Regions from separate parts of the Homo sapiens genome. Here all the other regions are linked to region 1. The links come from fine-mapping of genetic effects on plasma protein levels. A gene starts in region 1. Each other region holds a variant in brackets. All regions are shown on one strand. Distances are between the middles of the regions. Region 1 holds the start of MSMB (microseminoprotein beta). Region 2 overlaps LOC124902418 (a long non-coding RNA gene). Region 3 overlaps LOC124902418 (a long non-coding RNA gene). Region 4 overlaps LOC124902418 (a long non-coding RNA gene). Region 5 overlaps LOC124902418 (a long non-coding RNA gene). Region 6 overlaps LOC124902418 (a long non-coding RNA gene). Region 7 has its middle 46 kb from the start of ANTXRL.

What was found. PIP is the posterior inclusion probability: the model's chance that the variant is causal. The UK Biobank Pharma Proteomics Project read protein levels with antibody pairs (Olink). The fine-mapping took linkage between variants from a reference panel, not from the people measured, so its PIPs are less certain.
Region 2: its variant is fine-mapped to the plasma level of the MSMB protein (UK Biobank, PIP above 0.99).
Region 3: its variant is fine-mapped to the plasma level of the MSMB protein (UK Biobank, PIP above 0.99).
Region 4: its variant is fine-mapped to the plasma level of the MSMB protein (UK Biobank, PIP above 0.99).
Region 5: its variant is fine-mapped to the plasma level of the MSMB protein (UK Biobank, PIP above 0.99).
Region 6: its variant is fine-mapped to the plasma level of the MSMB protein (UK Biobank, PIP 0.97).
Region 7: its variant is fine-mapped to the plasma level of the MSMB protein (UK Biobank, PIP above 0.99).

What each region holds. Positions count from the first base shown.
Region 1 is chr10:46,043,884-46,047,955 of GRCh38, forward strand. MSMB (microseminoprotein beta) reads right to left here and starts at 2,386. Exons shown (of 4, transcript NM_002443.4): 1 at 2,352-2,386. The coding sequence starts at 2,354. RefSeq lists an enhancer at 335-836.
Region 2 is chr10:46,193,275-46,197,238 of GRCh38, forward strand. It overlaps LOC124902418 (a long non-coding RNA gene), which reads right to left. Exons shown (of 2, transcript XR_007062137.1): 2 at 1-3,964. Among named protein-coding and RNA genes, the nearest start is that of ANTXRL, 92 kb to the right of the region's middle. The variant T/A (reference allele first, on the strand shown) is at 2,318.
Region 3 is chr10:46,198,258-46,202,329 of GRCh38, forward strand. It overlaps LOC124902418 (a long non-coding RNA gene), which reads right to left. Exons shown (of 2, transcript XR_007062137.1): 2 at 1-4,072. Among named protein-coding and RNA genes, the nearest start is that of ANTXRL, 87 kb to the right of the region's middle. The variant AAT/A (reference allele first, on the strand shown) is at 1,540.
Region 4 is chr10:46,188,052-46,192,123 of GRCh38, forward strand. It overlaps LOC124902418 (a long non-coding RNA gene), which reads right to left. Exons shown (of 2, transcript XR_007062137.1): 2 at 1-4,072. Among named protein-coding and RNA genes, the nearest start is that of ANTXRL, 97 kb to the right of the region's middle. The variant G/T (reference allele first, on the strand shown) is at 1,961.
Region 5 is chr10:46,176,046-46,180,117 of GRCh38, forward strand. LOC124902418 (a long non-coding RNA gene) reads right to left here. Exons shown (of 2, transcript XR_007062137.1): 2 at 1-4,072. Among named protein-coding and RNA genes, the nearest start is that of ANTXRL, 110 kb to the right of the region's middle. The variant AT/A (reference allele first, on the strand shown) is at 1,813.
Region 6 is chr10:46,181,002-46,185,073 of GRCh38, forward strand. It overlaps LOC124902418 (a long non-coding RNA gene), which reads right to left. Exons shown (of 2, transcript XR_007062137.1): 2 at 1-4,072. Among named protein-coding and RNA genes, the nearest start is that of ANTXRL, 100 kb to the right of the region's middle. The variant A/C (reference allele first, on the strand shown) is at 2,256.
Region 7 is chr10:46,239,391-46,243,462 of GRCh38, forward strand. It overlaps the pseudogene ANTXRLP1. Among named protein-coding and RNA genes, the nearest start is that of ANTXRL, 46 kb to the right of the region's middle. RefSeq lists an enhancer at 118-217. The variant A/G (reference allele first, on the strand shown) is at 1,668.

The sequences.
Region 1 (4,072 bases):
AGGCTGGTCTCAAATACCTGACCTCAAATGATCCGCCCGCCTCGGCCTCCCAAAGTGCTGGGATTATGGGCGTGAGCCACCGCGCCCAACCAGACAGCCTGTTAATTAACCTGCAGATTCTGCTTCAGTAGGTCTTTAGACTTACACGGAAGCTCCCAGGTGATGCCCACGCTGCTGGTCTGAGGTCCACCCCTGAGTAGAGAGGCTCTAAAGCTTTTTTCATTCCTGTCTTCTATTCTGCCACCAGCCTTCCTTCCCTTTGTGTCTTCCTTTCCTGCATTTAGTAACCCTGAGCTCCTGATGTGTGCAGGAGATTACACCACGACGCCAGAATGGGCTAGGATTTTCTAGATGGTACAGCGAGCCTTGAGGTGAAGCAGGCTGGCAGTATCCTTAGAAGTTGTGTCTCTTGGCTGGGCGCGGTGGCTCACGCCTGTAATCCCAGCACTTTGGGAGGCCGAGGCGGGTGGATCATGAGGTCAGGAGATCGAGACCATCCTGGCTAACATGGTGAAACCCCGTCTCTACTAAAAATACAAAAAATTAGCTGGGCGTGGTGGCGGGCGCCTGTAGTCCCAGCTACTCAGGAGGCTGAGGCAGGAGAATGGCGTGAACCCGGGAGGTGGAGCTTGCAGTGAGCCGAGATTGCGCCACTGCACTCCAGCCTGGGCGACAGAGAGACTCCGTCTCAGAAAAAAAAAAAAAAAAAAAAAAAAAAAAGTTGTATCTCTTTAGGTAAATTACTGCTCCTGGAAGGGTTATCCCATGATCAAGAGTTGGGGGTCTGGCCAGGCATAATTTCTCACACCTGTAATCCCAGCACTTTGGGAAGCCAAGGTGGGAGGATCACTTGGGCCCAAGAGTTAGAGACCAGCCTGGGCAACATAGTAAAAACTCATCTCTACTACAAATAACAATAATAAAATAAATAAATAAATAAATAAAGAGTTGGGGGTCCTCAGGATCTTAGGCAGGCAGAGGTATTGCCAGCTCTGCAGCTTGCTAAGTTCACTGTGAGGCTGCATAGAGTATAGGCTGGAGGAGCCTGTCTAGTGGAGATGGGGAGGACCTCCCACCCCACTGTTGTTTTACCATCCCCAGTTCTGCCTCCGGACAGTTTCTGAGAGCAAGTTTGTCTTGCCGAGTGGCCCAGAGGAGGCCCGGGGTCCCCTCCTGAGGACCCTCTCCCACCTCCCTTGGCTCCTCCCACTTGGCTGGCTGTTTCTTGCCTCATCTCCCTTGCAGCCCCCAGAGCAGCCCAGTTCAGTCCCCAGCGTTAGTAAAGAATGTTTTAAGAAAGATCAAGTTTAAGACACAAGAAAAGCCTGCATGGGTTTTTATAAATTTTGAAGCAAAATTCTTTCTTGGCCAGGCACAGTGGTTCACACCAGTAATCCCACCACTTTGGGAGGCTGAGGTGGGCAGATTGCATGAGCCCAGGAGTTCAAGACCAGCCTGGGCAGCATAGCAAAATCCTATCTCTAAAACAAATACAAAAATTAGTCGGGCATGGTGGCACTCGCCTGTGGTCCCAGCTACTTGGGAAGCTGAGATGGGAGGATCACCTGAGCCCAGGAAGGTCCAGGCTGCAGTGAATCATGACTGCACCACTGCACTCCAGCCTGGGCAACAGAGTGAGATCCTGTCTCAAAAACAAACAAATAAACCAACAAACACAGCCCCAAACCCAAGATTTTTCCTTAACACATGATACAGTGAAAAGGGCCTAGGGAAATGGTTCCCAAACTTGAGTATTAAAATGACCTGGGCAGCTTTTTAAATTGATGCTCTGTTCTCACTGCAGCCCAATTAAATCAGAGTGTCGGGGTGGAAGATGGGTGTCAGTGTTCTTCAAAATTCCCCCGGAGTTTCCACTGCACAGCCAAGTTTGGGAGCCCCTGGCAGGGAGAGAGGAATGCCTGGGTTCCTATCTCAGCTCATTCACAGGCTTGCGGTGAGACCCCAGTGGCAGCTTCTTCCCCTCCCCAGGCTCAGTTCCCTCATCTCAAAAACGATGCAGTCATGTAGCTCTGAAATTATTTTTAATTTCAAATTACTCACATAGGACCCAAGAATTAGAGACACTTATGAAATCTAATTGAACCCCAGAATTACTGGAAGGAAAAACAACTTAGATCTTAGAGAACAGAACTAGTGCTAAACTCATTACAATTTTCGCAAGCTCTCAGACTCTCATACTCTGCACATTGAATTGCAGGTAATAACATAAGGTTCCTAACTAGGTCACATTTACCATTCAATGCTATGTGGTAGAAGCACACGCATATTAAAATAGGAATACATATTCTCTTTTGCTTTTCTAGCCTTTATATATAAAACCAGTTACCTACCATTGTGATAAGCAGGACTCCTTATAGACAGGTACATCCAGGCAAAGCTGCATCAAACTTTTATACTGGAGAGGGCAACCACGCATTCGACATCATTGGGAATGATAACAAGGTGAGAACACATTGAGTGTTTACAGAGGGTTGACTATCAAAAGGAAAGTATGGTTTCAGATGATTTATGAGTTATTAATCAATCACATCTCCACCCAAGTTATGTGTTTACCTTGTCCCCACCCCGATCTGCATTTGCTGCTGACCTAAAAGAGCAGAGGAGGAGAGAACTTCTCTTTGCTGAGCCTTCGCCCTATGCTGGTGGATTGCTAGCACGTGATGTGTCCTTATTCGATTTTATACACAAAGAAACAGCCTCAGCGATGCCAGTCACAACAGCCAGGTGGTAAAGGTGGGTTTCCTGAAGGCATAAGAATAGCCCACAGGTCAGCCCACCAGGCCCACCGGGCCTGGGTCTGTGGCCCAGATGACCCTGCCCTTAGGGTCTGACATGAGAACAGAAATGGGTCAAGCCATCCTGCAGGGCACAGGAGAGCAAGAACTACATACAGCTCGGGGTTCCCTGACAAGCTGAATTGCTGGACCTTTCTAGAGCCCTTCTTGAATCTGTAGTCTACTCCCTGCTGCATCAAGCAAGCCTTGTTTCTCTTTGTTCCACAGTGGTCTCCTCCCAAACAACCGCACCTGCCCTCATCATGGCTAGGATGGCCTTTGGGGAATGGCAACAAGCAGAACCTCCTAGGGTGCTGGAGGGACTTACTACTTTATCTGTTTGCTCTGCCACCACAACAAAACACTGCAACTGGGTGGCTTTGACTAAAGAAATTTATTTGCTCACAGTTCTGGAGACTAGAAATGTGAGGTCAAGCCATTGGGGAAGGCTTGTTTTCCTCTGAGCCCTCTCTCTTTGGTTTGCAGATGGCCATGCTCTTGCTGCCTCTTACATGGCATGCATCCCTGGCATCTCTCTCTGTGTCCAAATTTCCTCTTCTGATAAGGACACTAGCTGTATTGGATTAGGGTCCACTCTAACTATCTCATTTTACCTAAGCCACCTCTTTAAAGGCCGTGTCTCCATTACAGTCACATTCTGGGATATTGGGGGTTAGGGCTTAAACCAATGAATTTTTAGGGGATGCAATTGAGCTCATAAGACAATTTTATCCCAAAAAGTCCCCTCACTCCTCGCCACAGCTTGCTACAGTTCCTAAAATTTAACCTGAGATCCCTCTGCCCACAGATGAGAGTTCATGCTCCTAACCAGGGGATCCTTGAAGCTCATCTGAGCTGGCCACAGTGGCCCTTTCCAGCACCATCCTCTACCCTCCCTAAAATCAGCCTCACCACCCCTAACACAGCTTGAGGTCACTCTCCTGCTCCTTAGAAGAGCTGTAGTGCTGTCTGGCTGCCTCCTCACTCACCAACGGTGCCACACACTTCTGCCTTTACCTGCATAAGTTAAGTGTTCATCGACTCTAAGTTCCAGGAAATCGGGGCACATTCATCATGCACTGTAGCCCCTTGGATTCTTTTAAAACTCCAAGTTTGAAGAACTTCCCACAGTGTGAAGTGGGAAGTTCTGCCTTACATTGAGAGGAACTAGGATTTGCTGCCCTCACCTGCTTACCTCCAGGGTACAGGCACAAACCTCGGCTCCACAAACACTCTCCTCTCAAAAAGTCCTCTTCAGAGAGGGTCCAAGGACACTG
Region 2 (3,964 bases), 150 kb after region 1:
TCTAACCACTGCCTCTAGAAGTAGAATAAGTGTCCTCTTGCAGAATACTTCTACTTCCTTCTCCTCAAACCCCTCCAGCTTGGAATCTCATACCATTTGATTATATTGATCACTCTCCCAATGTTTAGTCACTTTCCCTCATTCTTTGAAGTCTTTACAACCTGACTTACTGCCATTATTTTGATATCTCATTTAAATTACTTATCTTCTTTGACATTTGACCTCGTCATTTCCAACGTACTTGCTATCTTCAGTATCTAGCTATTCAATCTCATGATCTCAGCTCAAACCATGTTATTACTCCTAATTGCAAATTTTTACAATCTAACTTTTAAGTTTCCTGCCTTCTGAACATTAACTTCTATCTTTCTAGTTCATTCCATTTACTACAACTTCAAAAATACTGTGACTCATCCTGGATCTACAATCTCATACAATATACAATACAGTCCTTATACAATTCTCAATCCAATAATCTCCACACATCCTTTACTTCTCAGCAAACCTACCTTCAAAACATTTAAATAATTTTTACTACTGCTGTTATCCACCCAGGCCTAGCCAACATCATGTCTCATCTGAATTTTTATCCCCCTTCCTGCTTCTGCATTAGCCCTCACCTTCAGTCTATTCTCAATACCCAAGCAAGAATATAACATAATATCATAGAGATCATGCCACTCTGCTCACTCACTTTTAAGGACTTCTAATTCCACTCTCAGTCATTATTGTACAGATTATACAGCTCTACTCATGCTCCCCACCAGGCACACCTCTTTGATCACAGCCCTGTTGCTCTTCCCCTTGTGCCTCTGTTCCATCTTTACTGCACCCAACACTTCCTGGTGCTCTTTGGGCAGCCTGGGAATTGTCTCTGTGTTAGTCCATTCGAGCAGCTATAACAAAATACCATAGACTAAGTAGCTTATAAATGACAGAAATTTATTTTTCACAATTCTGGAAGCTAAGTCCCAGATCAAAGTGCTGACATATTCCGTATATGATGAGGCCCTATTTCCTAGTTCATAGACCCATCTTATTCTTCATATGGTGGAGTCATCATATGGTGGAAGGGACAAACCAATCCCCTCAGGCATCCTTTATAAAGGCACCAATCTCCTTCATGAAGGCTCTGTATTCATGACATAATCACCTTCCAAAGACCTTAACTTTTAATAGTATCATACTGGAATTAGACTTCAACGTATGAATTTGGGGGGGTTGTCAACATTCAGACCATAGCACTGTCACGTTAGATGCTTTGTACATGGTTTCTCTGACTGAAAACACCTGTCTTCAAATTCCCCCCTGGATTGTTTCCTTACCTCCTGGATTAGTTCCTTCTCATGCCGCTAATAAAAACATATCCTAGACTGGGTAATTTATAAAGGAAAGAAGTTTAATTGAGTCACAGTTCTGCACAGCTGGTGAGACCTCAGGAAACTTACAATCATGGTGGAAGGGGAAGCAATACATCCTTCTTCACATGGTGGCAGCAAGGAGAAGTGCCAAGCAAAATGGGGGAAAAAACCCTGATAAAACCCTCAGAGAACATGAGAACTCACTCATATCACAAGAACAGCAGCATGGGGGTAACTGCCCCCATGATTCAATTGTCTCCCACCAGGTCCCTCCCATGACACATTAAGGGATTACGGGAACTACAATTCAAGCTTTAGATTTAGTGGGGGACCCAGTCAAACCACATCACCTTCTTCAAGTCTTTCACTCAAATGCTACTGTCTCTGTCATGCCTTCCTTATTTCCCTACTTAAAATTGTATCTCCTTCTCGTGTTCTTTATTTGCTTTGTCTGCTTTACTTTCCTCCATAGCACTTAGCAACACTTAACATATTATATAGTTTAATTTTTTATGTTATTATATATCTCCTTCCAAGAGAATGTAAGCTCCAAAAAGGCATATATTTTTTTCTTTCCTTTTTTTCACAGGAAAAAAGGAAAGGCCCTGTGTTATATCCACAGGGCCTACAACAGAATGTGGTACAAGGTAGGAGCTTAATGTGAATGAATGAATGTTAGTCTTATTACCTTTTAAGTTTACCTAATTTTCTAATTTTCTACATTTTCTACCTTCCTCCGTCCTTTCCACCTTCCTACCTCCTTTGGGATGTGCATACAGAAAGCAGCAACATTAAGGTAAGAAAGTTTAACCTTTGGATTAATATTAAAACCTTGAGACAGTTTTGCTTTTCTGTTGCCTTTAGCAAAACCACATTCCTGCTGCTGTCAGTTATGACGCACTGAGAAATCTTCAGAGACCTAAACTTTTTCCACAAGATGACTGGAGAAAAATAAA[T/A]CACCAAATATCATAAAGATACTTGCATGTTTTGTAAGTGATTAATGACTGCTTTCTCATAACAGTAAAAACTATTTTGTTTTGTATGAGAGGATTTTTCACTCTAACTTTTAAAAAAATCATTACATACAAATATATCACATCAAACCCAAAAGCCATTGCTAGCACACTGGTTCCTGTCTTAATATTAAGTATGAGACAAAAGGCCTTTATCTTCCAGAAAGTTGTTTATAACATGCCAAATATGTGAACACCCAATAGTCAAAGGACATTATCTCTGTGATGCAATTTTGAAAGTTGGTAAAATAATTTTTTATCAATTTCATCCTACAAGCACATAATTTAAACCATTCTTTTAAAGTGGATTTTAGAAGATTGGAAGTTTTAGAAGTCAGTCCCTCCACAAAAACTGCCATTAAACTGCAAAAAATAAGAATTAACCTTTTTGGAACTCTGGATCCTAATCAGATAAATAACAACCATTAGTAGAGTGCTTGATGCTATTGGTCTTTAGTAAGAAAGTGGCTGCATGCACACGCCAGATAACATCACTCATTCTTATTCACAAGAGTCAAAAAGTGAAAACAAACCTGTATGTGTGGATAAACAAAATGTGGCATGTACATACAAGGGAATATTATTTAGCCATAAAAAGGGAATGATGTTCTGATACATGTTTACAACATGGATAAACCTTGAAAACATTATGCTAAATAAAATAAGCCAGACACAAAAGGACAAACAGTATATGATTCTACTTATATGAAAGATCATGAATAGTCAAATTCATGTAGAGGGAATGCAGATTGCATGTTTCCAGAGCATGGAGGCTGGGGCAAGGGGAATGAAGAATTAGTGCTTAATGGTACAGAACTTCTGTTTGATGTGATACAAAAGTTATGAAAACAGTGTTAATTATACAACATTGTGAATGTATTCAATATCACTGAGTTTTAGAATTGAAAATGATTAAATGGTACCTTTTATGTTATGTATATTTACCACTGGGTAATAAAATTGTATTAATGTAGGTGAGGCAATTTTAACAGTTGTACCACTCTGGAGGAGGATATGATAATGAAGGAGGCCATGCATGTGGAGGCAGGATATATTACATATATAATATATATTTATAATATATATAATTATATATATATTATATATACACATTATGTCAGGGTGTGTGTATATATATATTTTATATATATAAAAAAACATACACCCTGCCTCCACATACATGTAAGACATATATAGTAATATATGGTATATTATCATATATAATATATATAACTATATATATATATATATGGTAAATCTCTATCTTCCTCTTAATTTTTCTGTGAAACTGAAACTGCCCTAAAAAATTCAAGTCCTACAAAAATGAAAGTGAATTAAAGTACTTTTTCTGGAACAAATAAACTTAGCATAAATAGTTAAAATATTAAGAGTTGTAATTAAGGGAAATTTCCGCTCAATGTGACTTCAACAGTTTAAAAAACGTATTACTACAATAAGACCACGGAGAGAGGAATTGGGAGACCCAGAATTGATTGGGTCAGAAATTGAAAATGATATTATCAGTGACCCAGGTTTGAATGTCTCTCTTCACAGCATTGACTTCACTAATGGATGTGACCTGGTTGGCAG
Region 3 (4,072 bases), 150 kb after region 1:
AGCTGTGGGACAGGAGGGAATGGGGATGGTATTCAATAGTACCACATCCAAGCAAGTCTTGTGTGGTTAAAACAAATCAATACAGTAACATGAAATTTTACACAGAAACCTATCTAATTATAAATTGTATGCTTACCATAATCAACACTGTTATACATTGTTTTAAAAATACTTAATAATGTTTTTTGTTTAACCAAATAATAGAGGCATTAACTAGTTTCCCAGTGCTGCCAAAAGAAATTGCTACAAAATTTGTGGCTTAAAATAGTAAAACAAACAAACAAACAAACAAAAAATTCTCTCTCAATTATAGGAGGCCAGAAGACCAAAATCAAGGTGGAGGCAGAGGCATACTTCCTCTGATGCCTCTAGGGAAGAATCCTTTCTTGCCTCTTCTAGCTTCTGGTGGCTCCTGGCACTCCTTGGCTTGTGACAGCATAACTCTAACCTTTGTCTCTATCTTCACATGACCTTGCTTGTGTTTCTGTGTCCCAACTACCCATGACTCACTCTAAATTCAGATGATCTCACCCTGAGTTCTTTAACTTTATTATATCTGTAAAGCTCCTATTTCAAAATAAGGTGACATTTACAGGTACTGGAATGGGAGAGGGTCTAGGACACAGACACTCCCTTATGAGGATACTACATGACCCATTACAAGGCACAAAGTAATCACCATAGGCAAACCGCTAGTGAGAGCTCACTCCAGTTCGGAATATATTCATGTTTCTATGTAAGAGAAAAATTCATCCTTGCTTCAGTTCATCTTGGCATCAGTACAAGGGTGGGATTCAGAGACATATAAGTGTGGAATACCAGATCCCACCACACTTAAAAAGCTGGCATACTAAGTTCATAAACAATGTAGAGTGTGAAGTTGAGTTGAAAATGCTTATGCCATACAGTTTATGTATCTTATAATAGCCTTAATCACACTTCCAGTAATGTTCTCCACCACTGGATGCTAAAAAAATAAAGTTAGTTAAAGAATTAGATAGTATAAAAAATATATATACCTCTTTGAGTGGAAAAATGCTGTCAGCACATTTTGTTATTTTATTCCATTGTATAAAGTCTCACTAGTGCCCTCTTCATAAATGTATTGAAGGTTTGGCTAAATTGTATCAAATTTGTGATTAAATACAAATGTGAATACTATAAAATATTACAAAGGACAATCTGTATACTATGCTATGCCAGTTTTACAATTTTACAATGACTTACAGATGCCATAAATATTTACTTTAAGGGAGTAAAATAAGTTATAAAATCATATTTAAGGACACCTAAATCCTTGAATAAGTTTAAAATGGTATTATTATTTACATATGAAGTCAGCTGACTATTGAAAGCTTATTTTTCAATAACAGAAATATATGCATTATCTAAAACACATATTCCAATATTTTCAAGAAACAAAATACTGAATTAAATCATCTGTATTTAAATGTTTATCTATTTTCGTTATAAATGTCCATGAAAATGCTTAAAATTGGTTTATTTGATCTAAAAAGTTAATATGCAATTTTTATTTTT[AAT/A]ATATCATTTTTCCCATTTATTCTTTTCTAAATAACACGTTCATCCAAAGTAGATGACTGAAGAAACAAAATGCTGTTTTCTTTATGAACTTGTAATACATTTCAAAAATAATTAAGATATTGTTCAAGGTGTTGAAGTGTACAATATAACAAATTGCATTTGCAGTTGAATAGTAGCAGAGTAGAAGCTGAAAAAATAAATCATGTATCAAAGTAGCTTAAAACAGATGATAGCAGAGCAAAGAGTTTCCTGCCAACGCCCTCTAAACATCGGTTCTTTTAGGCTTTTGTGCTGGTATTAGGTTTCAGTTATAGACAAGACATATATATCTGACCTTTTCCTTTCCTTTTCTACACCTTGGAGTCAAAGTCTCCTATAAAAGGACATTTGCAGCAAGTATTTTCAGCTGGAGTAGGAGGAAAGGGCAGGAGTAGGAGAGCGTTATGATCACCTCTTGCCAAAGCAGTTTCACTTGATTTGCAACTGGTGTTTGGTAAAGAATTTTGCTATGCAAAAATAGTGTCTTAATTGGATTATTTTAAGACAAAGTATGCATTTTTCATGTCGTACTAGTATTTTATTAATAAGGCTAGGGAAACCTACTAAATCCCTATACTAAAGTGAATTTGATTCTCTCCATAGAAACTTAAATCCTCAGGGTGATACAACTCAGTCCTTCTACTGCAGCAGCTCTTTTATAAATGCCTCCCAAAGCTCCAAGAAGGAACAAAGAATGTGACCAGTAAGCTCACACCATGAGTCTATATTGCAGAATATAGACTTTGTTCAACAAAACTGCAGATGCTCTGTTGAATCCACTGGAGATTGTCCTGATACTAAGGACAAGTATGTAAGTTAATGATTTTATTAATTTTAACATTTTTAAATGTTTTCCTTTGGGGAATTCTAATTTATATATCAATATTCAGGTAATATTTGCTGAAAACACAAACTCTGAGAATCAAAATGATCTGCATTCACATTCTCATTTTCTATTATAACATAGAGACAACTACTTTATTATCTTTTTAGAAACTTTCGCAACTACTTTAGTTTCTTCCTAATTTTATAAATTAATCTATCTCAAAAAACTTTGCTCAAAACAGTTAGTAATAGCTATCAACTTCAGAAAAAGTGAAACTTTAGGCCGGGCGGGGTGGCTCACGCCTGTAATCCCAGCACTTTGGGAGGCTGAGGCAGGCGGATCACGAGGTCAGGTGATCGAGACCATCCTGGCTAACATGGTGAAACCCCATCTCTACTAAAAATACAAAAAATAACCCTGTCTCTACAAAAAATTAGCCTGGCGTGGTGGCGGGCGCCTGTAGTCCCAGCTACTCGGGAGGCTGAGGCAGCAGAATGGCGTGAACCCGGGAGGCGGAGCTTGCAGTGAGCTGAGATCGCGCCACTGCAGTCCGGCCTGGGCGAAAGAGCGAGACTCCGTCTCAAAAAAAAAAAAAGAAAAAGAAAAGAAAAAGAAAAAGAAAAAAAGAAAGAAAAAAAACTTTAAAGATAACTTTTAGAAGGAAAATGAAATACAGAAATAATACATCTCATTTACACTTAATTAAAAATAATATGAATTGTCACTATTTCCTATGAAAACATCTCATGCCAAGTTCTTTTATTAAGCTTGGATTTTAAATGTTATATTTGAGTTGAAACTGGTAGAATCTTAGTAAAACTATAACAATAAGAAATTTTTATATTATATATGTAATATACAATAATCACATTTAATTCCATTTGTTAGTCTATTCTGATTCTTTAGCAGGTTGATTCATAATTTACCAACTTGGATCAGAAATATTTTCTATTCTTAGCTTTTGCTGTCAGCAGAGATAATAATAATATAGAGCCTGAACAACAAAGGATTGTGTATTGTTTCAATTTAATTAAAGTTGATTCGCTGCTTTAAGAGAGACTCACATTTTATATTTTATATTTTTTAATTAAAAAGAGAATGTAGATATTTGCTTTTCCAAATTTCCCATAAGATAAGAAAAACATATTTTTTCTTAATTACACCCTTGCTAAGTCACGCTAGCTGCCTGACCTTGGACAAAATTCTTAACCTCTTTGTGTCTCATTTTCAGTAACTGTGAATTAAAGATAATAACTGTAGTATATTTCTCAAGGGATTATTGTGGGAATTAAATAAAATAATCCTCTAAAATGCTTAGTACAGATTCTGGAACATAATAAGCAGAAAAAATTAATAACAATTATTATTTTTATTTACTGTATTATGTGACATACTTTTTCTTTATGACCTTCAGGAGAATTTCTACTCATCTTAAAAATGTATATAGATATTGATCTGCAGAGAAATATATCTGTTATTTCAAGGTCTGTGGATTACATAATGGTCAACTCTGATTGATTTACTGATTAAACAAAATTTTAAAACAAAAATAAAAATATTGCAGCTATGTTGGTTTTAACCATTCTAAACTCTGATGAAATTTGCTTTCTGTTTGGTTTGTGACTAGGAAGATAAACATTATTTATTAGGAATAAAAATTTCTGG
Region 4 (4,072 bases), 140 kb after region 1:
ATAATTATATTCACAATACTATACAAATAAACCCTTGGAAATAAATTTAGCAAAATGTGTGTAAGGACTGTATGCTGAAAACTAATAATCTAAGCAAATGGAAAATCATTCCATGCTCATGGATTGGGAGACCTACTATTGCTTTTCTAGTAATTCTCCCATCATAGATCTATAGATTTAATACTATTGTTACCATACATTAGCCATATTATATGAACATAAATATTTCATTTGTGAGCCTCATATCTAATTATTTGTTATTTACATATAAAATAATTATTTTAATATGAGCTCTTTGAAAAGCACTTTAAAAATGGTTCCCTGAGACCTTGGCTTTCAAGTTCTACTTAAACTATTCAGTATGAACTAGAAAATTTAGTAAACAAAGTGTCATCTTCTGCCTCATTATCTTTTTATTTGGAAAACTATGTTAGACTCCAAGGTATTCTCTCTTTACTTCAATGTAACAGAAGTAACCAGTTTAATTGTTCAGAACCTGACATTTATTTAATCATGTCTTCTTAGTGTTCAGGTTTATTGTCTTCAATGACTGGATGCCAGTCTGCTTCCTTTTTGACTTTCCTAGGCTCGGATTCATCAGATTCTCTACTTGTGCCATTTGGAATGGAAAGACCCTCCCACAGGGTAGAGGTTATTCATTCTCTCTCTCTCTCTCTCTCTCTCCACCACAATTTTTGCCAAGAGCAAGTCAGGTTTTTGGTCAAGCTAAATTTTTACTGCATGCTTTCCTTCAACTAAGTGTGAAAGAAATCTATTAAATAATATTTAATTTGGTCTCAAATGTGAACCATACTCTCCAACCTAGTTTTTCTACCAAATAACCATGAACTGAAATTTACTTCATAGTTTTGACCTTCATAAATTGTTTGTTTCCCCATTTATCTTCAATTCTTATATGTTTTGAAATTATTGATATCAACTCTGGAGAAAAGAGTAAGTCTTACAACCGGCATAACAACAGGTACAATTAAAGAAGTATGTTCCTTAACATGAGAAGAATGTTAACCCATTTCAATCAAAAGTATTTCATTTTTCCCATGAGTAACACTATGCTGTGCATTGTGGAGTTTACAGAGGAGGTGAGATATGGTCCTGACTTCGTGGTATACAATTTCATTTGATAGGGCAAGGCATATGTGGTATAATAAAGATATAGATGTTACTGACGTACATGAGAGCCTTGTGGGCTGAGTTCCCTTATAGAAGTGGAGTCTGTGCAATCTTGAAAATGGGTAGCATCTGGATAAGAAAAGAGTCAATCAAGTAAGAGAAATGCCCCAAAATTGCTTCTATGATAGTAGAACAGCTTCTTTCAGAAAAAGCTACATAGACATTTAAATTTAAAATTATAGCATCTTACAAACAAATATATAAATACCATTTACTTTTATGTCTAATACATTTAGGGAAAGTATCTAAGTCAATGTTAAAAATTCTATTTCAAATCCTCGCATGCATCTCCTTTCACTAATTAAATAATAGTGAACTGTGTTTTGAAATCATCAGACACTTCAAAATTAGTTTTCTTTTCAAATAATGCAACGTAGTAAAATGGTGGACTTGCAAAGTTCTTATTTTACTGTGATTCTTCTATGAAAATAATGTAGGACTATTTAAAATTTTTCCTTAAACTTTCCACAAGTGTAAAGTAGGTAAAACACCACAAGCAATATTTGCTGAATTATTACAATATATTATATGTCTTTTACTTAATATGAGTTATACACTGAGAACTTTTTTTTTCACAATAATTCTCCGAGATGAAGATAAAGTGGATGAAAAGTTGAAGTAAAGATGTATTCACCCTACAAGACTTAATAGTGAGTCTATGCTTAACTCAAGATTGCACTGGCCAAGGGATTAAAGAGGCAGAGGAGAAACTGCTTCCAGCGTTGTTTCCCAATAAATCAATAAAACTTGTCAGGTGTTTTCATCCAAG[G/T]AGAGAGTAACACTAACCTCTATCTTCATGTATACATTTTTTCCAGGCTTTTGGAGCTTGTCAATGATTCCTAAACTTGGCTTTATATTAGATTCACCTGGAGACCCATTACAATCCCAATGTCACCAGGCATGGTGGCTCAAGCCTGTAATTCAAGCTACACGAGAGGCTGAGGCAGAAGCATCCCTCAAGCCCAGGAGTTTGCGGCTGCAGTGAGCTATGATCATGCCACTGTACACTAGCCCAGGTGACAAAGTGAGACCCTGTCCCCTTCTCCCCAAAAATCCTGATGTCCAGGTTATCAAATTAGAATTTTTGAAGGTAGGATTGAGGCAGTGCTACTAAAAGCAATGACAAAAAGAAGCAAGCAAGCAAACCACTTGATGATAATATGGAACAAAGGTTGAGAACCACCAGATGGAAAAAGAAAACAAATTCATTAATACTGATCGTCTATTACCTTTAAATAACCTAGATCTCAAGAGATCCCAATATACAAAAGCTTTGGCTAGGACCTGAGAATCTATTATAATTAGCATTTTCATTAATCTTAATATCTCACTCATATCATGCACAAAATTCAATGTAAGATGGATCACAGACCCAAATATAAATGCTAAAGCTTCTAGAAGAATACTTTGAGGAACATCATAATGATCTTGAGTGAGATAAATAATGATTTTTTTTCGAGAGCACAAAATGTATTAAACATAAAAATAAAAATTGTTAATGTTTTTACTATATTAAACTTATATTCATTTATTCAAAAAAACCTCATTACATATATAAGGAACTCCTAACAACAGAAAAAAATAACTTAAAAAGGGAGGCAAAATGATTGAATAAATTTTCTTCAAAGACATACAAATAGCCAAAAGGTATATGAAAAGATGTTCAACGTCACTAATGATCAAAGAGATACAAATAAAAACCAAAATATGATATCACTTACCACTTATTAGGAGGGGTAATTTGGAATTTCCATTCCAAAAGAATGGAAATCAGGATGTGGTAGAGTTACCTGCATACCCATGTTCTTTGCAGCATTACTCACAAAACAACAAAATCTGAAAACTTAAATGTCCATCAGCACATAAATGAATAAAGAAAATGTGGCGTATAAATACAATGGAATATTTTCAGCTTTAAGAAGCAAGGACATTCTGCCATCTGCAAGAACATGAATGAACCTGGAGGATATCATGCTAAGCGTGATAAGCCAGTCACAGAAGGATAAATTCTGCATGATTTCACACATATGAGCTTTCTAAAATAGTCAAACTCATAGAAATAGAGAATAGAATGGTTAGGGGAAGGAGGAAGAAGGGTTGCTGTTCAACAGGTATAAAGTTTCAGTTGTGTAAGTTGCGTAAGTTCTAAAGATTTTCTGTGCAACATCACGCCTATACTTAACGGTGCTATAGTGTACATTTAAAACCTTACTAAGAGGATAGATCACAAGTTATGTTTTTACCTCAATGAAAAATGAATAGAAATGTCACAGTGAGATAACACATTTGAAATACACAGACCTGACAAAATATTTCTATGGAAAGTAAATAAATCCTACAAATTGTTATGCAGAAGATACATCACTCAATTAGAAGTGGGCAAAAGACTTGAACGGTCAGTTCATAAAAGAAGACAGCCAAATGGGGAATCAGGAAAAGAAAATGTGCTGAACATAGTTGGTCATCAGAAAAAATGAAAATAAAAACCTCAATGAGATGTCATTACATATCCAAGAGAACTGGTAAAATTAAAATGGCTAAATACCTGGAGACCGATATGGGAGGATAGCTTGAGCCCAGGAGTTCAAGGCTGCAGTGAGCTATGATTGTGCCACTCCACTCCAGCCTGTGTGATGGAGCAAGACCCCATCTCTTAAGAAAAAAAATTGGGGACTGAATATAGCAAGTGTTGAAAAGGCTATGAAACAAAGAAAATCTCATACATTCGTGGTGGGAGAGTAAATTTACAGCTATATTTTAAAGAAGTTTGGCAATTTCTTATAAAGTTAAACTGCACAAATACCCAATGACATCGTGATTCAATTTATAGGTATATACCAAAAATAAATGAGGGTGTGTATTCACACAATAGAGACAGATA
Region 5 (4,072 bases), 130 kb after region 1:
AAGCAGTTTTTATGATGTACCTCTTGCATTACAATACTCTTATGTAGCTATACAACTCCTACAAGACATAAAGTAAACACAAAAGCTATTTTCTTCACTTGCATGTATGTAGATGTATCCTAGAGAAATGCTATTGTTCCTCAGAAATGGTATTTGTAAATGAATTTTTTTTAATTAGACAAACCCAAAGTACTATACTATGGAGTAAGTTTGTCTTATTTTGTTTTTAATCAGTGAATATAGATGACTAGTTCATTCACTTAGTCTTTCAGAAGAGTTTTAATATCAAAATTATCATATGGTCTGACTTTTTTTAAAGCCCAGTTCTTACAAAACAATAAAATCAGACCTGGTGAGGTTCTGACAACTACGAGAGAAACTTAGTACCAAATACATATGCTATTTCTCCATTTGCACAAGACAGCTAATTTGTAGAAAACAGAAGACTAAAAGTTGGTAAATCAAATGTGTTTTATAATTACATCTGTGAGAGAAGAATCCTCTTATGACTTCTGGAAATATCAAAATCTGAAATGACTAAATAACTGACATGCCAAGGAATTTGTATTCTCTTGTTCTTTTACACATTAGGGGAGAAAATAGTAAAAACTAGCATAATTGTGTGGCAAAATATCCATGAAATAATATTTTGAAAGTTAAAATATGGATTTAAATTAAGACAAATGGATGTGTTTTTTAGATGTGTATGCCTAAAAGATGGATACTGTGGATATCTGATGGCTTTCTTGATTAAGCCACAACCGGTGGACCTCACAAATGTCAAATATGTTATTCCAAAATGTCAGTTGTTTAGACTCATTTCTCAGCTTGTTATTGATGAGTTTCCTTTCACATTTGGAGGAATCCTGTTGGGGAAACTGAAGAACAGATGTTAAGTGTGAAGTGTCTCCCTCCTTAGTTCATATTCATATCACATTGTTTGAGCTGCCACATGTAAACAATATAGACACTAAGCCAACTGGTCCTCTGCCTACTGCTGATGTGGCAGAAAATATCTAGGAGGTAGCCAGAGGGGCATATGTATACCTGTTAAGTGGCCTGGTTCTCCAATAGTCGTGCAAGTATTGCTAAATTTGTTTCGCTCCTGGGAATTCAAGCTTCTATTTCAGATTCCTAATCCACAGCATTAATTATCTTTTTTGAATACCCGAAGCAATTTATGTTGCTTAACATATAATAAAGTTAAGTCCATTATTATTCCTGTCTTATAATTGAGGAGACTAGAGTCTAGATTATTTAAGCAACCAAAATCACACAGTCAGTCAATGACAGAGCCCATGACTAAAATTCTGTCTGTCCCCAGATTTGTGCTCTTCAGATAATGACATTTCTGCACAGTTATTAATCTGAGTAAATAGAGTCCATAGTGAATTATTAGCTGATTTCAGGAGATTCCATGCAAATAAAAGTCTGTCATATCATGCTCTGCCAGTCTACATTAATACAAATCACAACAACAAGGCAGTTTATTTAAAAATATTAAAAGTAATAGAAGATTGAATGGAAGGATGAATGGATGGATTGATTAAGAGATAGATAATAAATAAATTGATGAGAGAGAGAAACACACAGAGAGAAAGATAAAATTAACCACACTAATAAAAGTATGATTTGGTATATAACAGAAAAAGTTCTTTAGTTTGTTTGTTTGTGTGTGTAGGTATTCTGTCATAAAAACACAATTATCTAAAACATAAAGTCTCAATCTTTTGCTTAAGAAATATTTTTAATTTAGGCTGGTTACAACTGTGAATTAAATTTTATTTTTATTTTTTATTTTATTTTATTTTG[AT/A]TTTTTTTTTTTTTTAAGATGGAGCATCGCTCTATTGCCCAGGCTGGAGTGTGGTGGCGCGATCTTGGCTCACTGAAACCTCTGCCTCCTGGGTTCAAGCGACTCTCCTATCTCAGCCTCCCAAGTAGTAATTTTTGTATTTTTAGTAGAGATGGGGTTTCACAATGTTGCCCAGGCTGGTCTTGAACTCCTAACCTCAGGTGATCCGCCTGCCTCAGCCTCCCAAAGTGCTTGGATTATAGGTGTGAGGCACCATGCCCTGCCCAATTGTGAATTAAATTTATATCTAGAAAAGGTGAGAAATATTATTAACGAAGACATTTCTTTCTATGATACTTAAGTTATACATGTGTAGAAGGTGCAGGCTTATTGTATAGGTATATGTGTACCATGGTGGTTTGCTGCCCATCAACCTGTCATCTACATTAGGTATTTCTCTTAATGCTATCCCTACCCTTGCCCCCCACCCCCCGACAGGCCCCAGTGTGTGATGTTTCCCTCCATGTGCCCATATGTTGTCATTGTTCAACTCCCACTTCTGAGTGAGAACATGTGGTGTTTGGTTTTCTGTTCCTGTGTTAGTTTGCTGAGAATGATGGTTTCCAGCTTCATCCATGTCCCTGCAAATAACGAACTCATTCTTTTATATGGCTGCATAGCATTCCATGGTGTATATGTGCCACATTTTCTTTACCCAGTCTATCATTGATGGACATTTGGGTTGGTCCCAAGTCTTTGCTGTTGTGAATAGTGCTGCAATAAACATATGTGTGCATATGTCTTTATAGTAGATGATTTATAATCCTTTGGGTATATACCCAGTAATTGGATTACTGGGGCAAATGGTATTTCTAGTTCTAGATCCTTGAGGAATCACCACACTGTCTTCCACAATGGCTGAACTAATTTACACTCCCACCAACAGTGTAAAAGTGTTCCTATTTCTCCACATCCTCTCCAGCATCTGTTGTTTCCTGACTTTTTAATGATCACCATTCTAACTGGCCCGAGATGGTATCTCATTGTGGTTTTGATTTGCATTTCTGTAATGACCATTTCTGTAATGATGAGCTTTTTTCATATGTTTTTGGCCACATAAATGCCTTCTTTTGAAAAGTGTCTATTCATTTCCTTCGCCCACTTTTTGATGGGGTTGTTTTTCTCTTGTGAATTTGTTTAAATTCTTTGTAAACTCTGGATATTAGTCCTTTGTCAGATGGATAGATCGCAAAATTTTTCTCCCATTCTGTAGGTTGCCTGTTCACTCTGATGGTAGTTTCTTTTGCTGTGCAGAAGCCTTTTAGTTTAATTAGATCCCATTTGTCATGGGAAGACATTTCTAACCAGCAACAGGTCCAGTATCAGGGCCTTTATGTCTTTGTCCACAAAGTGAGTATGTTCTGCACAGGGCAGCAGTGTTTAAGGATATATTCTCTTCATGGAGTAACACCCAACTCAAACTTTAATGGTAACACTTTAAATCTTTCCAAGCTCTAAAAGCAATTTCTTCTGCTTAATTGCTTTTTGGGGACTGTAATACATGTGGGTATTCTTACTCTAAATATAATTCTCTGCATTTATTTTCAACATTTCTTTTATGGCCACTTAAGTGACTTTTCTCTGGTTATTTATGCAATATAGGTGACAATCCTATTTGGTTTTCTATTTGAACATTCTGTAAAAGCTGAATAACAACTCCAAAATACAACACAAACATGCAGATACATATACAAACACTTACTGTATTTTATTCAATTAACAAGTGTGTTCACTTTAATTCACACACAACTATACCTATAGGCATGCCCACACATACAAACACACATACACTGTTTCTCATTCCTATTTCCTTTGTCTGTACTTGGTTTAGTTATGGCACTTTTGTTTTGCCTCTAACATTTTTATTTTAAAAAGAAAATTAAAATAGGTTATTGGGATCAAAGATATAAGCTTTTTGTTACTTTGAATGATTTTTGTAATTCAGAATATGCACTTGTTATTTCAGTTCTTATTTTTATAATTATTGGAAGAGTTTGTCTAATTACCCTATAAATCCCTAGAGAAAGGTAGCCACCATATACTTTATTTCTTGGTTATATGTATAAAAATCAGTAGGCAATGTAAAAATGTTTTTGTGTGAATTTATGTGAGTTATAATTCTAATTCTATGTCAATATTCACCTCAGATTACCACATGAAAGCTTAGTCACCAAGTATGCCTCATACTGAAATACCCACTGATTAAATCAGTTGACGACC
Region 6 (4,072 bases), 140 kb after region 1:
AATTGACATTTTACAAGTCATATCATGTGATACTTTTTGCCAAACCTGGTCTCTGGCTTGATCAGTTTTATTTTACATTTGAAATTTGTACTTAGACTTGTGGGACTACTTTCTTCCATGAAAGATCTAATACCCTACAACCAAACACTTCATTATTTGGAATTAAAAAGCGAAATTCTTTGATTATATCTAAGCTAATTTAAGTATTTTAAGTATATAATGTTTAACTGTTAAGTAGTTTACTTCAATTATTAAAATGACTGAGTCAGAGTAACCGATTATACTTCCTAGGCACACTAGGCCAGATGTCAAGAATCAAGGACTTCATTTTCAGAGCTGGCACTCATTAGCTCTGGGTTTGGAGAATTCACTTATTCTCTTCATTCTTTCTGAATAGTTTAGCATTGTTTTCTAGATGTGATTGAGTTTAAATGCACTATTTGGAGGCTTATAGGTTCCATTCTTTTAGGGAAAATAATTTTGAAAAAGAAAGAATAAAAAACTCTAGGTCAAAAGGGATCTATGGCTGTCTCACAGCAAGAGTGAAACACTGAGATGCCTACATGGTATATAAATATTAAAATAAAGAAGGCAAGCTGACTATGAAAAACAACAGCTGAATTATGGCAACAAATGAAAAATGTCAGTAGTATCTCTACTGGGGACACTATGGAATGGTGGGGACTGAGGATAATTAGAGAAGACAACCTGCCTACACATGGCAGCATCTACTAAGACTTATGACTCTGTTTATGAAGAATATGAGTAAATGTCCTGATATTTAAACACATACCAAAAATTAAGATGTTCATGTATTTTGCTAATTTGATTATTTTAAAGTAATAATATTTTTTATTCAAACAAATATATTGTCAGTTTAAAGGCCACTGTTTCTTACGTAATAAAATTTGCTTTTTGATTTGATGCTTGAATTTTTTCTATGACATCACAAGAAAGTTATTGGTTATACATGAACAAATGCATGAATGGAATTATTATTACTTTCATTGACAAATGCTTTTATATATGTAAAATTTTCATCTTAGAAAGTTATTTTATGTGTTTTTAGAGAACTATCCTCTCTTCCATGATGCATCTTTGTTAGTTCTATTTCTTTAAGTAACATTGAAGTTATTTATTTTTCTGTTTTTGTATATCACATTCTTATTCCACTAAAATACCTATATTTTCTTCAGTTATGTATGATTGGATTTTTTTAACCATCCAGATACATGTCTTGTGACATAATAGAATCTTTTTTATTCTTAGAATGAAAGAGCTAAACCATAGTCAGAAAACTTATGAATTTACTATATCACAGCTACTATGGTGTGGTATGTAAATTATGTTTATGAAAATTTATGATTATTCAGATTAAGTCCTGCATATGTAATGTTAAGATTTTTTTACTTTATTTTTCTGAGAACTTGATTTACTAAAAGGTAAATAAATCACACTAGGATATAAATATATCATTATTATTTTAAAAGGTATGCCCCAGTCCTCTTCTTACTGTTGGATAAGCTCGTTCTGAAACCACAGTTCCAGACTCTTCTCCTGAGTAAATAAACATATTTTAAAGCAGTGGTAAATATCTGTTTTGTCTGCAACTCCATCTCCAACAAGTAATTTGTTCAACAATTGTCAGTATGAAGTGGATGTCCTTTACATCAGCTCCCTAGATTTTTTCAAGTCCATTGGTGCTTCACAACATTTTTTCAGAGGTTATATTCTAGTCACTTTCTTTATTGTCCATTCAAAACACTTGCTGAGACCTAGGGTGTCAGATTCTATTTTGCCTGTTATTTGACATTCCCTTCTCTTCCCAGGCCATTTAGCTACATATTTCCTATTGGACTATCTGCTTTGGCATTTAGTAAATAAATACCGTAAGTCACTGAGGGTATGGGAAGAAATATTGAGTCATAGATACCATTTTCTCTTAGGGAATTTTCCTCTGAAGGCTTGCAAGTGTGGTATAGTTCAGTGTAGTGCTACCAGCTTCTGTTCTAAGGACACAGCTAATTGGGTTCCTAATCCAAGATAATTTAAACAGATTATTTAACCTTTTTATGTTAGTGTTTCTATTTTGTATAGTGGTTATAATAAAACCATTTACTACTTAAGATTAAGATCCTCATAGATCTGAAGAAATATTGTACTAGAATGCTTAGTGAAAAATGTCTGACACATAATAAATATTCCATACATTTTGGCCTTTGCTCTCATTGTTATTTTTACCATCAGCTCTCTCA[A/C]CCTTGAAACCTGGCTCAGCCCCTGTGGAACTGTAGTATATCACCCCTGTCCCAAAACGAAGACCTAGAATATTTACCCTTACATGGTTCCTATATCCGAGGTCCCAGAAAGGTAGAAGGGGGAAATGTCACAATAATATTCAAAATATCTGAAAGCAAACTGTTATTGTTTTAGTGTGAGAATAGAGCTTCATAGAATTTGACATTGTATTTCCCTAAAATATTAAACTTGTATATTCTCAACAGTTATATTATAAATATTTATTCAGGTATACTCAAAATTTATCCATATTAATGATAATTATTTAAATGCTCTTTAGCTGTTCATCACCATATTAATACTAGGAATAATGACAGCTAATTTTAATTGAGTACTTCCAAACTGTGGCCCAGTTACAGTAAAATAAACACTATTAGATACACTCCATCAATTATTACAGCAAGTCTATGAAACATACTGTATTACTAAGCCAGTATTAGAAATGAAAAACTCATGGGAAGGATATATATAAAACTTGCTCAAAGTTACCCAGCTAATAAATGGCTAGGACACAATTAAACACCTATGTAGTTTTCTTTCCTGAGCTGAAATCCTAAATCCTTGGCTGTATGGCCCCTCATTCAAAAGCCCTAAATTGGCTAAAATTTATATAACAGAAAATTCACAGAATCATTTCCTTCTACTTTTCCACTACCAGGGCTGTTAACAGTCCCAAGTAAAAGGGCAAAATTTTTTCTACTTGAGATAAGAAAAATACAGAGTGTGACAGGTGTTCCACCAATATAAAAACACTTTACCAGAAAAACTGAGAAGGGGGCTGTTAACCTTCGGGGAAATGTGGGTCTTCAGTGGATTCTTGCTAGAAACATAAAAACGTAGAGAGAAGATTTTCATTTAAAAGCCTCCTCCCTTCAGCAAAGTATATTCTGATTCCATTATTGTGTTAGGCTCCTATATAGTTATAAGTAACCCCATGTGGTTTTAGAATTCTTAAATATTCACACACATAGTCATCTGAAGAATGAATAAATCCATGAATGACTAAACCAAGTTTATTCCTATATCATTTTCAATATCCTTAAATTATGCTTACATCCTTAAATCGGTTGCCTCATTCTCAAAGCACATAGTCTGTAACTCGTAAACACCTGTCGGCCGGGCACGGTGGCTCACGCCTGTAATCCCAGCACTTTGGGAGGCCAAGGCGGGCATATCACCTGAGTTCGGGAGTTTGCGAACAGCCTGACCACCATGGAGAAACCCCGTCTCTACTAAAAATACAAAAAATGAGCCGGGCGCGGTGGTGCATGCCTGTAATCCCAGCTACTTGGGAGGCTGAGGTAGGAGAATCACTTGAACTCAGGAGGTGGAGGCTGCGGTGAGCCAAGATCATGCCAGCCTGGGCAACAATAGCAAAACTGTGTATCACAAAACAACAACAACAACAACAACAACAACAACAACCAAAAAAATATATATATATAAAATTCATTTAGTACGGAAGAGTGTGAGGAAACAGAAAGTTAAAAAAAAAAATTGAAAGACCAGCAATAATCTCACTTTTTCAAGAATTTGTTAGCTCTTTCTGAGCTCCACTTAACAGTTACTTTCCCATTCTTCCCTGCACACCGTCAACACATAAGGACTCAAATTAAGATGATGTATATGTTTACACTCCAAAATTTTTAAAGAAAAAGGAGAGAGAGAGAAAAAAGTAAAAGAAAAGAAACCCAAAAGGGAAAATATAGCTAAGGTGAACTGGTGAGTTTCTACTCAGAATCCTTATTATTGAGCATGATGTATTTTGTTTTCTTAA
Region 7 (4,072 bases), 200 kb after region 1:
AGCCAATCACAGCAGCCATGCTTCAACCACTCATAAGGAGCCAATTGTTCAAACCATGTTCAAATAAGGCAAATGCCAAGGTGTAACTAATCCAGATGTTTGTACTTCACTTTCATTTTCTGTATGTCATTTCTTTTTCTGACCATACATCATATCTGACCATATGGTAGCCACAGACCCTCTCTGAATCTGTTCTGATTCTGATGTTGTCTGAGACACATTTTTTTCTTGATCAGTTAAACTCTGTTACATTTAATTTGTTTAAATTTTTCTTTTGACAGATTTGGTGTCAGAAGATAAGTAAAACTGCAAAAGGCTGGAGAGGCTTCAAGATGGCTGACTAGAGGCATCAAGAACTCACCTCCTCCACAAAGAAAAATAAAAATAGCAAGTAATCACACTTCAAGAAGAACATCTAAGAGTGAACGCTGGAATTCAATAGATAAATGATGGGAAATAACTGAGGCATGAAAATGGAAGAAAGTGAGGCAGCAAGCTTGGCTGGGATTGGCTGGGAACCCAGAGTGGCTCCCTAGTGCAAGAAAAAGGTTAGTGAGAGATCCACAGCGGTTGACATTCTGACCATGGATTTTATAACCATAGCCAAAGGAAAACCCCTCAACCCTCATAGGCCCTGAGACTAGCGTAGGAAGGTGCCTAGAGACCATGTAACAGCACTGCTTCAGAGGGAGCTCATGTGGGTCCCAGTCCCCAGGTCTTAGGCAGCTGTAGCTCTCTGCCATTTGGAGAGCCCAGCCACCACCAGACTGCATCCTGCACTGGAAACCAACAGCCCCTGCATTTCCACATCTCTAGAGTCCCACTGACATCTCCCTGTGTTCACCTGTAGGGCTTCAGTAGTGCAATGCCAGTTGGACCCAGCAGAGCCTCCCTAGCACTCTAGCACACACAGTGTCCTGCATCTTGGGGAATGGACAGTGCAGCACAATAGGGAGGCTGCCTCCCCAGTGTGCTGAGAGGCTGCCCTCAGAGAAAAAGGAGCCAAAGTGTGGGTTTCTTAGAGCTTGAAAACTGTCTACCTGGGGCAGTTATCATGGACAGCAACCCTGTTCCCACCCCAGCAGTAAGGCTGCCATGCACATGCCTTGAGGGCAGGGTCTGCTACTGCTCACTGCATCTGTTGTTGCTGTCACTGGGGCCAAAGCACATGCCACTTGACAGTGACTTTGCCCTTTTTGGGCAGCAGAGCCACGCATACTTGCATCCCCTTTACTACTGGTTTTCCCTGTTGCTGCTGCTACCACTGCTGCTGCCACCCCTCAACAGCTAGGGGCTGAATCTCACACTTCCCAGATCCTGAGAACTCCTGCCTATGGCTGGAGCCACTGTAAGCAACCTGCCTATGGCCCAGCCATTTGCACATACCCTGAGGACAGTTTCCCCTGGCCCACTGCTGCCACTGCCACAGCCACTTGAGCACTCTGCCAGTGGGCCTGGGGACCCCTCCATTTTGCCAACCACAGCCATCACCTGAGTGTTCCATTGAGGGGCCTGAGGATACACCCACCCACCTTGACACTGCTTACCTCAGTGCCCAAGCACACTGCCTGGGGGCCTAGGGATTACCCCCACTCTGTTCACCATTGCTGGCCTCTATGTACTCCTCCTAGGGGCCTGATGATGGACCCACTCAGTCTACCACTACC[A/G]CCACAGCCAGCATCCATTTGCATGTACCACTTTGGGTTTAGGGAACTGGCCTACCCAGCCATCACTAACACTGATGTGTGTTGCTTCAGAGCCTTAGAGTTGCTGTGTTGTTGCTATTGTCAACACTCACTCCACACATGCTGCCAAGGGAAGGACCTGCCCGCTGGCCAGGCCTACCACTATGACTGCCAGCACCCAAGCCAGCCACATGGAGGCCTAAGAACTGGCCCATTTGTACCTGCTGACACTAGTGCCTGTGTACACTGCCTGGGGTCACAAGGAGAGGTACATTTACCCTGCCACTGCCACCATCAGGGTTTGAGGGCACACCCACCTAACATCCCCAACCGCAGCAAAACATCATCATAGCCTCCACTAACAACCACAGCCTAAGCCACTAGGGAAATCACACACCACTGATACTGCTTAGAGGTGAAGAAATCATAGAGACACTACATTACTTCATACACTTAGAAGCAAAGCTAAAGTGTCCTACCCAATAAAAACCATGGAAATATCTTCAGGAAAAAGCCAATCCAAAATGTATGAAGAAGCAACTGTTACAAAAGATGTGCAGATATCAATGTAAAACGCAAGAAACATGACTAAACAAGGAAATATGACACTTCCAAAAGATTACAATAATTCTTTAGCAACAGATTTCACTGGAAAAAAAATTTATGAAACGTGGGAAAAATAATTTTTAAAAATGATATTATAAAAGCTCAGTAAGACACAAGAGGACATAAACAATACAAAAAGTTAGAAATCAACTGAGGATATGAATGAAAAATTCACCAGAGAAACAGATATAATAGAAAAAAGAATCAAACAGAAATTCTGAAAGTGAAGAATTCAATGAACAAAATAAAAATTTATTCAAGAGCTTCCACAGTAGAGTGGAGCAAAAAGAAGAAAGCATCTCAGAACTTGAAGGCAGACCTTTTGAAATAACCCAGCCAGAGCCCCCGTCCCCATGCCCTACTCACACAAAAGAATAAAAAACAATGAACTAAACTTACAGAACATACGGGACACTATAAAGCAACCAAAAACAGAAATTTGGGGTGTTCCAAATGGTGAAGAGACCCAAGGTATAGAAAACCTGATTAACAAAATAATAGCTGAAAACTTCCCAAATTTAGTAAGAGATTTAACATTCAGATACAAGAAGTTTAGAAATTCACAGGTAATTAAAAACTCAAAAGGTCTTTTCCACAGCACATTATAGTAAACTGTCAAAAGTCAAACAGAGAATTCTAAAAAGAGTAAGAGAAAGGAAAAAGCTCTGGTCACATATATAGGAAGCCCGATCAGAAGAACAGTTAATTTCTCAGCAGTAACCTTATAGGCCAGGAGAGAATGGGATAATACAGGAGAGAATGGGATAATATATTTCCCCCCTAAAAAGGGGGCCAAAAAACCTGTCAGCCAATAATACTATACCTAACAACATTATTCTTTATCTTTAAAAAATGTGAAATAAAGTTTTTTCCACACAAGCAAAACCTGAGGGAATTCATCATCACTAGACCAGCCTTAGAAGAAATACTTAAGGGAGTCCTATGCCTGGAAGTGAATGAATGATAGCTACCGTCATGAAAACATACAAAAGTCTAAAACTTGCTGGTAGAGTAAACACAGAAATAAGAAAAAGAACTCAAATGTTACCACTATAGAAAACCAGCACACCATAATGATAAACTACAAGAGAGAAAGAAAGGAAAAATATACAAAACAATCAGAAAACATTTAACAAAATGACAGAAATAAGTCTTCATATATCAATAATAACCTTGAATGTAAATGGATTAAATTTTCCACTTAAAAGATAAAATCTGGCTGAATGAATTTTGAAAATGCCCCAACTATATGCTGCATACAAGAAACTCACTTCACATGTAAACACATGTAGACTAAAAGGAAAGGAATGAAAAAAGATATATCACACAAATAGAAACCAAAAGTGAGTAGAAGTAGCTATACTTATATCAGATAAAACAGACTTTAAGACAAAAGCATTAAAAAGTGACAAAGAAGGTCATATTATATAATGATAAAGGGATCAATTCAGCAAGAAAATACAACAATTCTAAAGATATATGCACCCAACACCAGAGCCCCCATATACATAATGCAAATATTATTAAATCTAATAGACTTCAATACAGTAATTTTTGGGGACTTCAACAGTTCACTCTCACCATTAGACATGTCATCCACAAAGAAAACCAACAAGGAAAAAATAAATTTAACCTACAGCTTAGAACAAATGGACCTAGGAGACATCTACAGAATATTTCATCCAACAACTGCAGAATACATGTTCTTCTAATCAGCAAATAGAACATTATCCAAGATAGACCATATGTCAGGTCACAAAACAAATCTCAATAAATTTTTA